Homo sapiens: one gene and its partners. The protein of the gene in region 2 purifies or fractionates together with the protein of the main gene of each other region. This does not show direct contact. Each region holds a gene or a part of one and is shown on either strand. Other genes may lie near its edges.

The links. Proteins that work in one complex are often made in the same cells at the same time.
Region 1: the proteins of UGT1A10 (region 2) and KLK10 purify together in Homo sapiens (affinity purification with mass spectrometry; 3 studies listed by BioGRID and IntAct, with this or other methods). This does not show direct contact.
Region 3: the proteins of UGT1A10 (region 2) and MANEA purify together in Homo sapiens (affinity purification with mass spectrometry; 2 studies listed by BioGRID and IntAct, with this or other methods). This does not show direct contact.
Region 4: the proteins of UGT1A10 (region 2) and A2ML1 purify together in Homo sapiens (affinity purification with mass spectrometry; 3 studies listed by BioGRID and IntAct, with this or other methods). This does not show direct contact.

The regions. Positions count from the first base shown.
Region 1 is NC_000019.10:51,016,910-51,021,169, forward strand, and holds the start of KLK10 (kallikrein-10 preproprotein), read right to left. Parts: upstream 2,801-4,260; 5' UTR 2,718-2,800; intron 2,463-2,717; exon of another isoform or gene 2,344-2,462; intron 2,234-2,343; exon of another isoform or gene 2,231-2,233; 5' UTR 2,222-2,230; coding exon 2,134-2,221; intron 382-2,133; coding exon 201-381; intron 1-200. UniProt on the Homo sapiens protein: Has a tumor-suppressor role for NES1 in breast and prostate cancer.
Region 2 is NC_000002.12:233,634,990-233,639,247, reverse strand, and holds the start of UGT1A10 (UDP-glucuronosyltransferase 1A10 precursor), read right to left. Parts: upstream 2,801-4,258; 5' UTR 2,726-2,800; coding exon 1,871-2,725; intron 1-1,870.
Region 3 is NC_000006.12:95,584,035-95,587,534, reverse strand, and holds part of MANEA (glycoprotein endo-alpha-1,2-mannosidase), read right to left. Parts: intron 1,134-3,500; 5' UTR 1,096-1,133; coding exon 552-1,095; intron 1-551.
Region 4 is NC_000012.12:8,850,121-8,853,620, reverse strand, and holds part of A2ML1 (alpha-2-macroglobulin-like protein 1 isoform 1 precursor), read right to left. Parts: intron 3,462-3,500; coding exon 3,347-3,461; intron 1,838-3,346; coding exon 1,609-1,837; intron 1,412-1,608; coding exon 1,285-1,411; intron 1-1,284. UniProt on the Homo sapiens protein: Is able to inhibit all four classes of proteinases by a unique 'trapping' mechanism. This protein has a peptide stretch, called the 'bait region' which contains specific cleavage sites for different proteinases.

The DNA.
Region 1 (4,260 bases), on a different chromosome or scaffold from region 2:
GACGGGCCCAGAAATGCGGAAAAGGACCACACCGCCCCCTGGCGGCCACAGCGCAAGCCCGGTCTCTCCTCCTGCTGGAAGGACACCGGGGACCGCACCTCCAGCTGTGGGAGTTCCGAGAGACCCCGCCCTGCCCGCTCCTCCCTGGAGGCCGCCTCCACAGCCCCCCGTGGCGTCCTCGGGGATGGATCTCCTCCTACTTGTTTCCGCAGTGCGCGGCCGTCAGCACCCAACTCTGGTCCACCAGGACACCCGCGCAGTGGAACGAGAGGCCGTTGAAGAGCGAGACCTGCCAGGGCTGCGAGCCGCGCGCGCACGGGGAGCCATAGGCTTCGGGGTCCAAGCGCGTGTCGTTTTGGGGGAGCAGCGCCGCCTCTGCGGCTGGAGAAAGAAAGGGGACGGAATCAAAGCACGGAGGGCAGGGTCTGGGTTTGGGGTTGGAGCTGGGCTGTGGCACTGGACTGCGTTCGGGGACGGGGGACGCAGCCAGAACGCGAGGGTGGTAGGGAAATATTGGGGGTTTCGCGTGCACCGAAGGGAATGGGAGGAGAAGAAGCGCGTGAAAGTGGAAGGAAGCTGGGATAGGGTAGCGTGGAGTAATGAGACAGAATAGGGTGGGTCTGGAGGGCAGGGACTGAACGCAGCGCGCCTGGAGAGCTGGCTAGAACGTCGCTGGTCGATAGAGGGGCGGGGATTGAACGCGGCGGGGAGGTAAGGGTGCGGGGATAGAACTCGGGGATCGGGGAGAGGAAGGGGTGTGAATAACAAAACGGGATTGAAAACCAGGAGAGGGGTGGGGCGCAGTGGTTTACGCCTGTAATCCCAGCACTTTGGGAAGCCGAGGCGGTTGGACCGCTTGAGCTCGGGAATTCAAGACCAGCCCGGGCAACACAGCAAGACCCAGTCTCTACAAAAACAAACAAACAACAACAACAACAACAAAAAAGTAGTCGCGGAGGCATGCGCCTGTAGTCACAGCTACCTGGGAGGCTGAGGTGGGAGGATCGCTTGAGCCCAGGAGGTGGAGGTTGCAATGAGCCGAGATTGGGCCACTGCACTCCAGTCTGGGCGACAGAGTGAGACCCTGTCTCAAAAAAAAAAAAAAAAAAAAAAAAAGCCGGATGTGGTGGTGCATGCCTGTGGTACCAGCTACTCTGGAGGCTGAGTATCGCTTGAGCCCAGGAGGTCGAGGCTGCAGTGAGCTCTGATTGGGCCACTGTACTCCAGCCACGGAGACAGAGCACTGCCCTGTCTCAAAAAAAAAAAAAAAAAAAAAAGAAGGAAAGAAAAAGAGAGAGAAAGAAAAAAACAAGAAAGAAAGAAGAAAAAATAAGAGAGAAAGTAAAACAAGAAAGAAGAAACAAACGAAAGGAAGGAAGGAAAGGAAGGAAGGAAAAGAAGAACGAAAGAAAGAAAAGAAAGAAAGAAAAAGAAAAAAGAGAGAGAAAGGGAAAGAGGAAGAAAAAAAGTGAGGGGAGAGGGCAAAAAGCGGTAAGGCAAGACTCAGGATAAAACACGGTGGTGTGGCCGGGAGCGGTGGCTCACGCTTGTAATCCCAGCACTTTGGGAGGCCGAGGCAGGCGGATCACGAGGCCAGGAGATCGAGACCACGGTGAAATCCCATCTCTACTAAAAATACAAAAAACTAGCCGGGCTTGGTGGCGGGCGCCTGTAGTCCCAGCTACTCGGGAGGCTGAGGCAGGAGAATGGTGTGAACCCGGGAGGCGGAGCTTGCAGTGAGCCGAGATCGCGTCACTGCACTCCAGCCTGGGCGACAGAGCGAGACTCCGTCTCAAACAAACAAACAAACAAAACAAAACACGGTAGTGTAAAATGGAGCGGGGCCGGGATGGGGCGGCGTAAGAGGAGGAGAAAGAACGCGGCGAAGAGTCCACGGAAGAGCGAGGATCCGGGTGGCAGAAATCGGACAGGGCCTGAGTGGGGCGGGTCACCCAGGGGCCGAGCCAGAAGAAGGGCCCAGCTGACTTGGGGGCGGGCCGTGCTCCGGAGCGCTGGGTGGGTGCTGGGGTCTCGGGGGAGGAGAGGTGCGCGGGGCTTGGTGACGGGAACACATTCTCCTCCCGCCCGTGCCTCCCACCGGCGCCTCTCCCCGCCCCCTGCCCCCGACCTTACCCCAGAGTTGCGCCATCAGCAGCGGCAGCAGCTTCGCCAGAGCCCGGGCGCCAGAGGCGGCGGAGAGGTGGAGGTGCGGAGCTCTCATGGCCAGGATCTGCTGGGGTGTGTGCAGGGGCGGGTTAAAACAGATGCTCCGTTAGAGACCCCCACCTCGCCGCGCTCATCCGCCCAGCCTGGGCCACCCCAGCCCGCAAGCACCCTTTTGACCTGCAGCCGATAACCCCAGGGGCTGGCAGACGGGAGATTCGGGCTGGAACAGCGGTAATGGGCACAATTACCCTAATGACGCCCCTCGCGGCATCTTCCCGTCCTCCCTGTGCCCGAGTGGAGCGCTCTCCGCGCCCCAGCTACCCTGGCTGCAGCCACGCCGCGCCCGAGGTTTCCCCCTCCTTCACGCGCGGGGTGGGGATCCGAGGCTCGGAGCCAGTGGGAGCCTCTTTCTCAACCTCACAGCGGGGGGACTTCCGCGTCCCGCAGGTGGAGAAACCGAGGCTCTAAGCCGGCTCCTGCCTGTGGCCCGGGGGTCCCCACCCATCCTCTCGCAATCCACCCCAACCCGGGTGGGGTGCAGGTAGCTTCACCTGGGAGTCGCCGATAGGAAGGAGGGAGGGGACCCAGACGTGCCTCTGCCCTGCCTGTGGTCTGCCGCTGGTATCCTCTGCCCAGGGACCCCTGGCGGGACCTTCCCTTTTAACCCCAAGGAGTCCGGAAGCTTCTCCACCCTCCCCTACCCCCACCCCCGGGCTCCCTCCCTTTCCCTCTGTCTAATTGTACCGTGGGTGAGGCTGGCACTCCTGGGTCCCAGATTCCTGCTCTGGGAGGGGCCCTGGAATACAGGCTTCTCCCAGTGCCCGAAACGCCCCCTTTTCATCCCTTTTGGAACTGGCTTCCGTGGGGATTCTCCGGGTCCCGGTGCCAAGAAGGCTTCCCAGGCGCGGGGAGAGGGTTCACGTCCCCAGCAAGGCTAGGGGTGGCAGGATGAGAGGCCACTGAGCAAGAGGAAATCAATGGGAAGTGCATACCTAGAGTGACAATGTGAGAAGCCAGACTGTGGAAGAGGAAGGAGGAAGGCCTAGAGATAAAGCAGGTTGAGTAGGAGGGACAGAGGCTGGCTTGAAAAGGGAGATTGTAACAAACCAAGGCTAAAAGAGCCAGAGAGAGAGAGAGAGAGAGAGAGAGAGAGAGAGAGAGGGAGGGAGGGAGGCGCCGAGGCTAAGAGAAACAGAAACAAGGAAAAAGGGAAACCCACGCCCACTCTGTGGCCGTGAGTGAGCTCTGTGTGTGTCCCAGTGACTAGCCCATGTGCGTGTTGGGGGGGGCTGTGGCTCTGCCTCATACCCATGTGTGGCCATCTCACACCCTCCCTGCCATCTGTGTGCCACCAGGTGACACACAGGCCCCTGAATCATAGGAGGTCAAAGCTGTGAGGGGCATCGGCATCACCTCAGCCAACTCCCTCATCTCAGGTGAGGAGTGAGAGGCTCAGAGAGGGCAGAGACTCACAGGAGGTCACACAGCAAGTCCACTTGACAACCAGAAGGCCCTGGTTCCACTCTGGGCTCCTATTGCTCATGCCAGCCACTTCTGCGAGGTGAACAGACCATCCCAAAAGATCCTGAGCTGGCCGGGCGCGGTGGCTCACGCCTGTAATCCCAGCACTTTGGGAGGCCAAGGGGGGGCGGATCACGAGGTCAGGAGTTCGAGACCAGCCTGGCCAACATAGTGAAACCCCATCTCTACTAAAAAGACACAAAAATTAGCTGGGGATGTTGGCACAGGCCTGTAGTCCCAGCTACTAGGGAGGCTGAGGCAGGAGAATTGCTTGAACCTGGGAGGCAGAAGTTGCAGTGAGCCGAGATCACGCCACTGCACTCCAGCCTGGGTGACAGAGCAAGACTCTGTCGCAAAGAAAAAAAAAAAAAAAGATCCTGAGTTCTGGATTCTCTCCGTGGGACATCCTCTTCAGAGGCCATCTAACTCAGTGCTGCTCAGCTGAACTTTCTGCAGTGATGTTTTATATGCACTAGCTAATCCAGCCACCACCAGTCACATGTGGCTATCCAGCCTTGGAGATATAACAAGTGAGACAGAGGAGTTACATTTCTGGCTTTATGTAATTTTAAT
Region 2 (4,258 bases):
ATTCTTTAATAGATATAGAAACACATTTATTTCATATCTCATAAAAGATATTTACAATCAAAATAAATGAAACCATATATAGTTTAATGTTTCATTTTTTATAGATATCCCTCTATCACAGGTGATATAAAATCATATATAGGTTTTTATATCTTTAAAGGCCTCTAGGTGACCCTGTGAGCCACAATAAACTCAGCGTGGGTTCAGGAAGTGGCAGATCCTCAACTCGGCCGAAGGCTGTGGGGTGTAGGCAACACATGGGTGGTGCTTGGTACTGTAATTAATGGAGGATAACGAGGAGAAAAGTGCTTTGATAAGTCCAACCTCTTAGAGTCCTGCAACTTGCATCTCCTCGCCTGGTCTTGCCATGAGCTGAAAGTCATGCCTAATTTTGAAAGGCCTACAACTGTAGTCTTCCTGCTTTTTAGAAAGAGCATTATTTCACTTTCCTATGAGATGGCTGAACGGTCACTCTTTCACCAACCATCTGCCAATGACAGATATAACTGTGTTACAAAGTCTACTGAATCTTGTAAGAAACCAGAACAATACATAAAAATGTGTACTCCACCCCTAATAAAATAATATAATGAGATGAGACACCAGGTGTTTCATCTGGATTTAGCAACTATGCGTTTGCCAAGAATCTTATTCTGGTATTTTTCAAGGATTTTTCAGTCACAAGCAACCGAATCCCTATTTAAACTGGCTACTCTAACAATATTACTCAATAATATTTTGGAAGTATATGCTCCAGCAAAGCAAAAGAAGCAGTACAAATATCAGACAAGGGAATTACTTGCAGATGGTATTGTATATTGTACATCTAATGCATACTACAAAATAATAAGAAAAGTTAGTGATGTGGCTGGATACAAGATACATATGCAAAAACCAAAATTTTAATTACCAGTAATCAGTTAAATGTAGAAATGGAAACATTGCCCTGTACAAAATAGTTTCTAAAGTAATAAAATGCCAAGGAATAAATGTTAAAAACAAACATAAAATGCTTATATAGTGAAAATTTTTATTTATGTATATAAAACAAGATCTGAATAAATAGTGAGACATATATGTTCCTGAACAGGAAGACTTAATAGCAAAAAGATGCCAGTCTTCTCAATTCAGGAAAACCCTGTAACCCTACGTGTAGGACTCTAGTCTACTAAGATAAAAGCAAGAATATAGAAATATATTCACGCAAGGAAAGTATTGAAGAGTGTTTACACAGCCTTATTCACAAAAGGAAAGAGTGGAAAATGGCTATATATATATCAATATTAATTGGTTAAAAAACTACATTGTATCCAAAGTAAAGAATTTTATGCAATTATTAAAAGAACTTGTCAAATCTGTCTGTATTGCTCTATAAAGGTACCCATAATTTATTGGCAAGTGAAAAATGCAAGATAAAGAAGAATATGTTCAGCCCAATACTAGATTTTATTTTTACTAAATAGGTATGGGAACTTACATGAGATATTGCATATGCCTAAAATACTTTTTTTCAATGAAAAGAATGTACACAAAACTTAAGAGCATTTCAACTACGGGGTCACATAGAATTAACAAAAAACGGAAGTTTCATTTCTTGCTGTGGTTTTTGGTACTTTTCTAAACATCGTATTTTAAAATGTAGCCTGAATATGATCTATAATTTTTAAATTATTACATATACTTTCAAGAAGGGCAGTTTTATAAAATTTGATAATTGATGAGTACATGAATTCGCACAAAATAATTTGTTAAACTGGAAAGAAATTTGAAATGCAACAAACGAAAATGTCAAATCACAGTTCAGTAAGGAATCCTTTTTTAATTTCCAAAGCCAGATTATTCTTAATGTGCTAAAGGAGAGGTGACTTACCATAGGCAATGGCTTTCCCTGATGACAGTTGATACCACCAATGAAGATCATGTTGGGCATCACGGGTTTGGGATAGTCCAAAACAAAGTCCGTTCGCAACAACCAAATTGATGTGTGACTGTAGAGATCATATGCCGTGACAGGGGTTTGGAGAATTTCAGAGGCTATTTCTAGGGCATTTCTAAAAAGATACTGGCAAAATAAATGGTCCTCCAAGTGCACGATGTGGTTCCATACTCTCTCCTTGAAAGTCATGGCATCTGAGAACCCTAAGAGATCATTGGGGACATAGGAAAGAGGAGCAGGGCACTGTGCACCTTCTTCAAGATGGTGGCAAAATATTCCCCTGGTGAAGACCACAGAGGGGAGGGAGAAATATTTAGCAACAATTAAGCCACAGGTATCAAAAGGATCCAGAAACACTGCATCAAAAGAACTCTCCTTTAAGTATTCTACTAATTTTCGGTCATTAAACAAACTCCTGCAATGCGAAAAAAATAAGTCAAGAAAACCACTGGATGAACTCATTAATAGAGAAAATATACTTTGTGCCTGTGCTTTCCATTGAGCATGGGCGAAAACCATGAATTCCCGGTTCTGATCTTCCAGAGTGTACGAGGTTGAGTAAGTCTTCACTGTGCAATTCAGTGATCTTTCCAGTTGCCAACTCACCTCTGGCATGACTACAACCACCTCATGCCCCCTGAGGATAAGTTTCTCCACCACCGACTGCATGGTGAACCAGTGACTCCCATCCATGGGCACTACCAGCAGCTTCCCTGCCTCGGCAAAGCCACAGGTCAGCAGTAGACACACACATAAAGGAACGGGGCTGGTCCACCCTGCGCGAGCCATGAGAGAACTGCAGCCCGAGCCAGCAGCTGGGATTCTAAGCTGCTATGATACAGTAGGCGGAAGAAGTACAGGCACAAAACCTGACCCCAATAGAGGGCGTGTATTTATCCTTTCATAAAAAAAAAAAAATCACACTCACTGCCAATGATTTACTCATAAGAACGATAACACACGAGTATCATTTGCTGAGATACCTACTTGTATGATTTCCAGACAAGAGTAGATTATGGTCTTCGCCTTGGAGGGAGAGCACGCTGCAAGTGAGTTTAGAAACAGAATTATTCAGCAATGCTTTTGGACCTTGAAGATTCGGAAAGATAAAGTGAAAGTAAATTTGAATAATGCTAATATTTTTGGAATTTATCCCAAAGCAAAATTTAGATTTTGACTTTAGCCAACCAAATACTCTCTGTCCAGAAAGAAATTGGCATCTCATGTTCCAGGGAAAGACAGCAAGGCTCTTAGCACTGACCTCCCAACTGGCAAGAAACTGGGGCTCACCTGCATCTCTGCAATGCATAATCATTGCTGGTTGTCTTCTTCCATATCCAAACCCTGAGAGGCCTCTGAAATGCCAAAATGAGATTGACAACCCTGCCTCCATGGACCATACCAGGGACTTGATGGAAAGTGACCATCACCTATTTTAATGACTTTCCTCAGATACGTTGCATGCAGTGGGGAGTTGCTGGCCCAGTCCTTGTGCGAACACTCTGCTGGGCTGCCTCTCTGTGACTGCTCTACTTCTATATTCTAAACACACCATCACTCCAGTGACCTCTTTCAGGAAAATATGTACTTGTCTCCCTCAGTCTGCTGAGGACTCCTGGAAGTCAGAGGTGATGCCATCTCTGTGTTTTTACCCTTCTTTCACAGTAGCCATGCTTTGCCTTTGACGTAGTTTGTATGTTTGTCCCCTCCATATATCATGGTCAAATATAATCCCCAGTGTTGGAGATGAAGCATGGTGGGAGGTGTTTGGGTCATGGGCATGGATCCCTCATGAATGGCTTGGCACTGCCCTCCCAATTGTGAGTGATTTCTCATGAGATTTGATTGTTTAAAAGTATACGACAGTACATGTATCCCAGATCTCTTAAAGTATAATTTTTTAAAAAATGCCAAAAACCCTCTTCAGGATATTATTCAGGAGAACTTCCCCAGCCTAGCAAGACAGGCCAACATTCAAATTCAGGAAACACAGAGAACACCATAAAGATACTCCTCGAGAAAAGCAACTCCAAGACACATAATCATCAGATTCACCAACGTTGAAATGAAGGAAAAATGTTAAGGGCAGCCAGAGAGAAAGGTCCTGTTACACACGAAAAGAAGTTCATCAGACTAACAGCAGACCTCTCTTTAGAGACCCAACAAACCAGAAGACAGTGGGGACCAAAACTCAACATTCCTAAAGGAAAGAATTTTCAATCCAGAATTTCATATCCAGCCAAACTAAGCTTCATAAGTGAAAGAGAAATAAAATCCTTTACAGACAAGCAAATGCTGAGAGATTTTGTCACCACCAGGCCT
Region 3 (3,500 bases), on a different chromosome or scaffold from region 2:
TGAATGACTCTATTTTCATAAAGTAATAGAACACTCACAACTATTCTCCAGTGATAGAAATCAGATCTGATAGAAATCAGATCCAGCTGATATGTATACAGTTTTCAGCGGTAGGGGAGAAGGTAGGCCTGAATAAAGGAATTATGATGAGACTTTTTGGGCTATAGAAATATTTTACTTCTTGATTGGGGTGGTATTCAAACAGGTATATACTTTTGAGTAACATCAATGAGCTATAAACTTAAAGTGGGAAATTCATTGTATTTTATGTAAATCATAATTTAATAAAATTGAGAAAGTGAATTAAATTAGAAATCAACAATATATCCAGAAATGCTCCAAAATGTAAAAATTAAACAATATACACTAAGGGCAGTGTTAAAATGTGGTTGCCTGGATGTTTAAGATCATACATACAGTTTAATTTGGAGGTATGAGCTTAACAATATAATTAATAATAATGAGAAAATTAACTAGTAAAGTTACACAAAAAATCATTTATATGCATATATACAGACACAAACACACATATATATATATACAATAATTACCAATTGAAGCTGAGCGCATTTGTCTCATGTGAGTTTCTATGACAGAAGGATCCCGAGAACTGTAACTTCCCAATTCAGGATAAAAGCTGGAGCCAATGTCATCTGGAGGGTTGTGTCTCCCTTGTGGATAATTCTTGGCTATTCTAGGGTCCCAATGCTCTAACACTGGATGATTCCAATGTATATATTTACCATCAAATTGTGGATTTCCATACCAACTGTAATAAAATACATGTAGATAATTGTTCAGAGGTGGTAGTTCATCCAAGTTAAGTTCAGAGGCTTTGGAAGGTTTCATAGTGATTTCAACACTTTTTAAATTCTTGGTATTTGTTTCACTGTTGATTCTGTCACTCTTTTGGAAATCAAAATTTTTCCCCAAATGAATAGTTCGTTGATGAAGTTCTGGAAGAAGGTCAAGTCCAAAAGGAGCTCCAAAAGTAGCTGTATTTGGTCTCAGCATTTTTAAACCCATCATCAGAGAGAAAATAAATAGAATAAAAAGTGCCAAAATGATGCAAGTCCTTCTCCGAAACTTTGCCATGATGACATACTTTAAACTCCAAAATAGTAAGTGTTTTGCTGCAATTTATTGAAAAAAGATAATTAGTAAGTGTTATCAACAGTATTTTCCAATATATTCAACACGAAAACTAAAATCCATAAATTTCATTACATTGAATAATTAATACTGATTTCATCACATATTGGTGAAATTAAGAAAGTGAAGACATTAATTATATCATCATATATAAATGTGTACAATAAGGGTCTATGGCTAGAATAAACGGCAATATTCATTTGGATATATCACCATGTACATGCCAATTACGTTTAGTCAGACGAACCTTTAGGAAATTTTATTTAAGAAATTAAAATATGTTTTTCATTACTTGAACAGATTACATGTATGCTGAATGTAGGAAGGGAACATTCTATGTATGTGAACTAAAATTCTGTTTAAAAATCATTTATTTATTTATTGTAGAGACAAGGTCTCACTATGTTGACCAGGCTGGTCTTGAACTCTTGGGCTCAAGCGATCCTCCTGTCTCAGCCTCCCACATTGCTAGGATTACAGGTATGAGTCACCACACACCTGGCCTGAACTAAAATTTTCTAAATCTAAGTGTAAAATTTACAAATCACAGTTAATAAAAAGGAAATACTTACTAGTGTATGAAAAACCCAGTCATTAAACAGATTTTCTAAAAAATTTTTAACTAACAATTTCATAAAAGGGAAAAATTACAAATTTTAAATAACATTTTGAAGTGAAATAGAATCAGACAAAATTTTTTAAATGACAGTAGAGAAAAAAAGAATAATCACAAGTAAGATATTCCCAATTTTTTCAAAAAATTCATTAGGCTGGGCATGATGGCTCATGCCTGTAATCCCAGCACTTTGGAAGGCTGAGGCAGGAAGATCACTTGAGTTCAGCAGTTTGAGACCAGCCTGGACAACCACGGGGAGACCCCATCCCTACACAAACTTTTAAAAAATTGGCTAGGCATGGTGGTGTGTGCCTGTAGTTCCCCAGCTACTCATGAGGCTGAGGCAGGTGGATTGCTTGAGCCCAGAAGGTCAAGGCTGCAGTGAGCCATGATTGTGCCACTGCACTCCAGCCTGGGTGACAGTGCAAGAAAACGTCTCCAAAAATAAAATTAACTTACGACTCTGAAAATCTTACTGAACAGAGGTTATAAACAGTAATTTATAACTTCTGAAAGGGTATTATATGTGTTTTTGTTTTAGTAAGTATGTTTATGGACATATATTAATGCAGTGCTTCTTGGCTGATTAAGAAAAGACATTATTGTTGTGTGTGTATATATATATATATATGAGTATAAGTATATAGGTACATATACACCATATGAATGAAATATTCAAGTCTTTTTATATACAGATTTCTTATTAGAAAGGTATTTGGCACAATGCTGACATTGACTGCTTTATAAAATGAGTTCTATGATACGGTGCTGTTATTATAGAGAATTAAGTTAAAAAAGACTTAACTCCAATAGAAAAGAAAGACAAGTGAAACTTCCTACAAACTGCTGCTTCTATTCTATCGGGGGAACCCATCCCCAATATTTCAACGTAGGTTCTTTCTATTTTCCATAAATGTCAACCAGTCTGAGAAATAAGAGAGAGAGTACAAAGAGAGGAATTTTACAGTTGGGCCACCGGGGGTGACATCACATATCGGTAGGACCATGATGCCCACCTGAGCCACAAAACCAGCAAATTTTATTAAGAATTTCAAAAGGGGAGGGGGTCCAAGAACAGGGAGTAACTCACAAGATCACATACTTCAAAGGGCAAAAAGGAGAACAAAGATCACATGCTTCTGGGGAAACAGGAGAAAAGGCAAAACAGAACTACTGGTAAGGGTCTATGTTCAGCTGTGCACCTACTGTCTTGATAAACATCTTAAACAACAGAAAACAGGGTTCGAGAGCAGAGAACCAGTCTGACCTCAAATTCACCAGGGTGGGGTACTGGAGGAGACCAGGGCGTATCTCAGTCCTTATCTCAACCGCATAGGACAGACACTCCCAGAGCGGCCGCTTATAGACCTCCCCCGAGGAATGCAATTCTTTTCCTAGGGTCTTAATATTAATGTTCCTTGCTAGGAAAAGAATTTAGTGATACCTCTCCTACTTGCACGTCCATTTATAGGCTCTCTGCAAGAAGAAAAATATGGCTCTTTTTGCCCGACCCCACAGGCAGTCAGACTTTATCGCTGTCTTAAAAATCGCTGTTACTCTGTTCTTTTTCAAGGTGCACTGATTTCATATTGTTCAAACACACGTTTTACAATCAATTTGTACAGTTAACACAATTATAGTGGTCCTGAGGTGACGTACATCCTCAGTTTACGAAGATAAGAGGATTAAGAGATTAAAGTAAGACAGGCATAAGAAATTATAAGAGTATTCT
Region 4 (3,500 bases), on a different chromosome or scaffold from region 2:
AGCCTGTAAGGATCAGAGACTTTGGGATGAGCTTGAAAAATCAATCCTCTCCTAGTCGAGTCTTCAGATGAAACCAGAGTCCTGACTGACAGCTTGATTGCAACCTCATGAGATACCTTGAGCCAGAGGTACCCAGCTAAGCTGCACCCAGATTAATGACCCATAGAATCTGTTTGATAATGTTTGTCCTTTTATGACACTTAAGTTTTACAATAATTTGTCAAGCAACATGAGATAACTCATACATATGAAAATCAAACTTTGAGTTGCAAGGATTTAATCTATGAGTGACTGACATCCCATAGGGTTGGGGGTGAGGATTAAACAAGTTAAAGGTGCAGTGACTCATTCTTGTAATCCCAGTACTTTGGAAGGGTGAGGCGGGAGAATCACTTGAACCCAGGAGTTTGAGAACAGCCTGGGCAACAGAGCAAGACCGCTTCTCTGCCAACTGAATTAGCCAGGCATGGTGGTGGCATGAGCCTATAGTCCCAGCTACTCCGGAGGCCTAGGTGAGAGGATCGCTTGAGCCTGGGAGGTTGAGGCTGCAGTGAGCAATGACCACACCACTGTACTCCAGCTTAGGTGACAGAGTAAGATCTTGTCTCTCTAAAAAAAAATAAAAGGCCAGGCGCAGCGGCTCACGCCTGTAATCCCAGCACTTTGGGAGGCCGAGGCAGGCAGGTCACCTGAGGTCAGGAGTTTGAGACCAGCCTGGCCAACATGGCAAAACCCCACCTCTACTAAAAGTACAAAAATTAGCCGGGTAGGGTGGCACGCGACTGTAATCCTAGCTACTTGGGAGGCTTGGCAGGAGAATCACTTGAACCCAGGAGGTGGAGGTTGCAGTAAGCACAGATTGCACCACTGCACTCCAGCCTGCGCAACAGAGCGAGACTTCCTCTCAAAAATAAATAAATAAAATAAAAATTAATTAGTCAATCAATTTAATGAGTTAATATATGTAAAGCAGTTAGAATAGTGCCTGGCCCAGGGACTCTTATAGTAAGTCCTTGATTAGTTACATGACCATGTATTCCTTGTCCAGCTATAAATATTAAAAGCTCTCCCTTTCACACTCAAAATATTCCGGTTTGAACAAATTTGTTTGGTCACCTATCAAAGAGTGTTTGTGTATTGACTTATAACAGCCTTAGGAGGGAGAAAAATAGTGGAAAATGGAGGAGGAAGCAAAGCAGATGTGGCAGAGGAAAAGACTGAGTGCTCAGTCACTGGTCTTCTGCTGCTGGCTTTCCTCGCCCGTCTACCACTTCCCTCTCTTACCCAATTTGACAGCTGTGATGTTCCAGTGGTGGGTTTTTGCGTCATCAGCACAGAGACAACTGGAGGTCTGAGAATCTGCCCATGATTCTAGCTGGTACTCATGCGATTTAGCCAGGTCAGTCTGAACCTACGGAGGATGTTTAAGAGACAAAGGGTACAAACAAAGGAGGTAGTGCATAGAGGCCTGGGGAAACCTGGGGGCTGAGACGCCGACATCTCCTCTCTTTCCCAGGGAAAATTGGGATGCTTCCAATTTAGAGACAAACTTATGGGGGAGGTGTGATTCCAGGGCTGACACCTGATTCCTGTATCCCCAGCTCTCACCCTGATGCAATCCTTTAGGTAATTGAAGATGGTGGCAGTAAGACGAAAGGATTCCCCACGGACTACTGAGTAAGGGAGAGTCAGGTCAACAAAGAACGGCTTGAAAGCAGTTAGTCCAACAGTGGGTGAAAGCCCGAAGCCTCTTGACTGGGAAGTGCAGAAACTCATCGCCTTCCACTCGGTGATGGCGTCAGGAACTGTGACGTGGACCGCCTCCTTCCCCGAGTTACTGTGAAAACACAAGGACCAACATGAGGCAGAGGTAGCGTGGGGCAAGGAGAACATTTGTGAATTAAGCCACAAATTCGGTGGGGTGTGCTGGCTTACACTTGTAATCCCAGCTCTTTGAGAGGCTGAGGTGAGCAGATAGCTTCAGCCCAGCAGTTTGAGGCCAGCCTGGGAAACATAGCAAGACCCTATTTCTACCAAAAATTTAAAAATTAGCCAGGTGTGGTGGTGCATGCCTATAGTCCCAGCTACTTAGGAGGCTGAGGCAGGAGGATTGCTTGAGCCCAGGAGTTTGAGGCTGCAGTGAGCTATGATTGCACCACTGCACTCCAGCCTGGGTGACAGGGCAAGACCCTGTCCAAAAAAAAAAAGCTACAAATTCATCTGCAGAAGTAAAATTGTTATTGTTATTGTATGGGGAGAAGTAAAGAGGCAACTGAACAGGTGAGTCTCAGTGTGAGTGAGGCTGCACTCATACGGAGGAGGGGGACTATGGTGGGGAGTCGGGGTGGGCATCTCTGTGCAAGCACATCTGACAGAGAGGCTGGTGCCCTCTGAGTCTGAGGATGTGTGGTCTCAGGGCTTGTCAAAATGGATATGCAAGCAGTGAGCAAAAATTGATGTCAATATATACCTTTAAATGTGTGTGGTTCTGTAGTGAGAACACAGGGCCTGCAATGTGTGAGTGTGGAATTGTGTGGATTTGTTTTGAGTGGTTGTATATGAATGCATGAAGAATTCAGGTAGGCCGGGCGCAGTGGCTCACACCTGTAATCCCAACACTTTGGGAGGCCAAGGCGGGTGGATCACTTGAGGCCAGGAGTTCAAGACTAGCCTGGCCAACATAGCAAAACCCTGCCTCTACTAAAAATACAAAACTTAGCCAGGTGTGGTGGCATGTGCCTATAGTCCCAGCTACTTGGGAGGCTGAGGCACAAGAATTGCTTGAACCTAGGAGGTTGAGGCCTACAGTGAGCCAAAATCATGCCACTGCACTCCAGCCTGGGTGACAGAGCAAGACTCTGTCTTAAAAATAAAAAGAAAAAAAGAATTCCGGAAAATAAATAAATTCCCACACCCCATCAAGCTTTCTTTGCTTAAGATTTAGATCCATTAGGAATGCGTCTGATTCTGAGTTTTCTACAGGCTCTACATTGCAGAATCTTACTGTTTTTTTTCTGGGTTTGTTGTTGTCGTTGTCGTTGTTGATTTTGAGAAGGGTTTTGCTCTGTCACCCAAGCAGGAGTGAAGCAATGTGATCTTGCTTCACTGCAGCCTCCACCTCCCAGACTCAAGTGATCCTTCCACCTCAGCCTTCCAAGTAGGACACAACTACCATCTGGCTATTTTTTTAATTTCTTTTGTAGAGACAGAAGCTCATTATGTTGCCCAGGCTGGTCTTGAACTCCTGGTCTCAAGTGATCCTCCCTCCTAAGCCTCCCAAAGTGTTGGGATTACAGGCGTGAGCCATGCACCTGGCCCTTTACTGTACTTTTGAGTCATCACTTACCCAATAGGAAACAGATCCCAGAGCCAGGTCTCTGGGAAGTACTGGCGGACCTGAGAATCCTCTGCTTGATGTAAAGGAGTTGATGACTCAAAAGCCTCTGGATGACCACCGCCTGCTGATGAAATTGAGAATACGAAAACTTTAGGAAACAGGA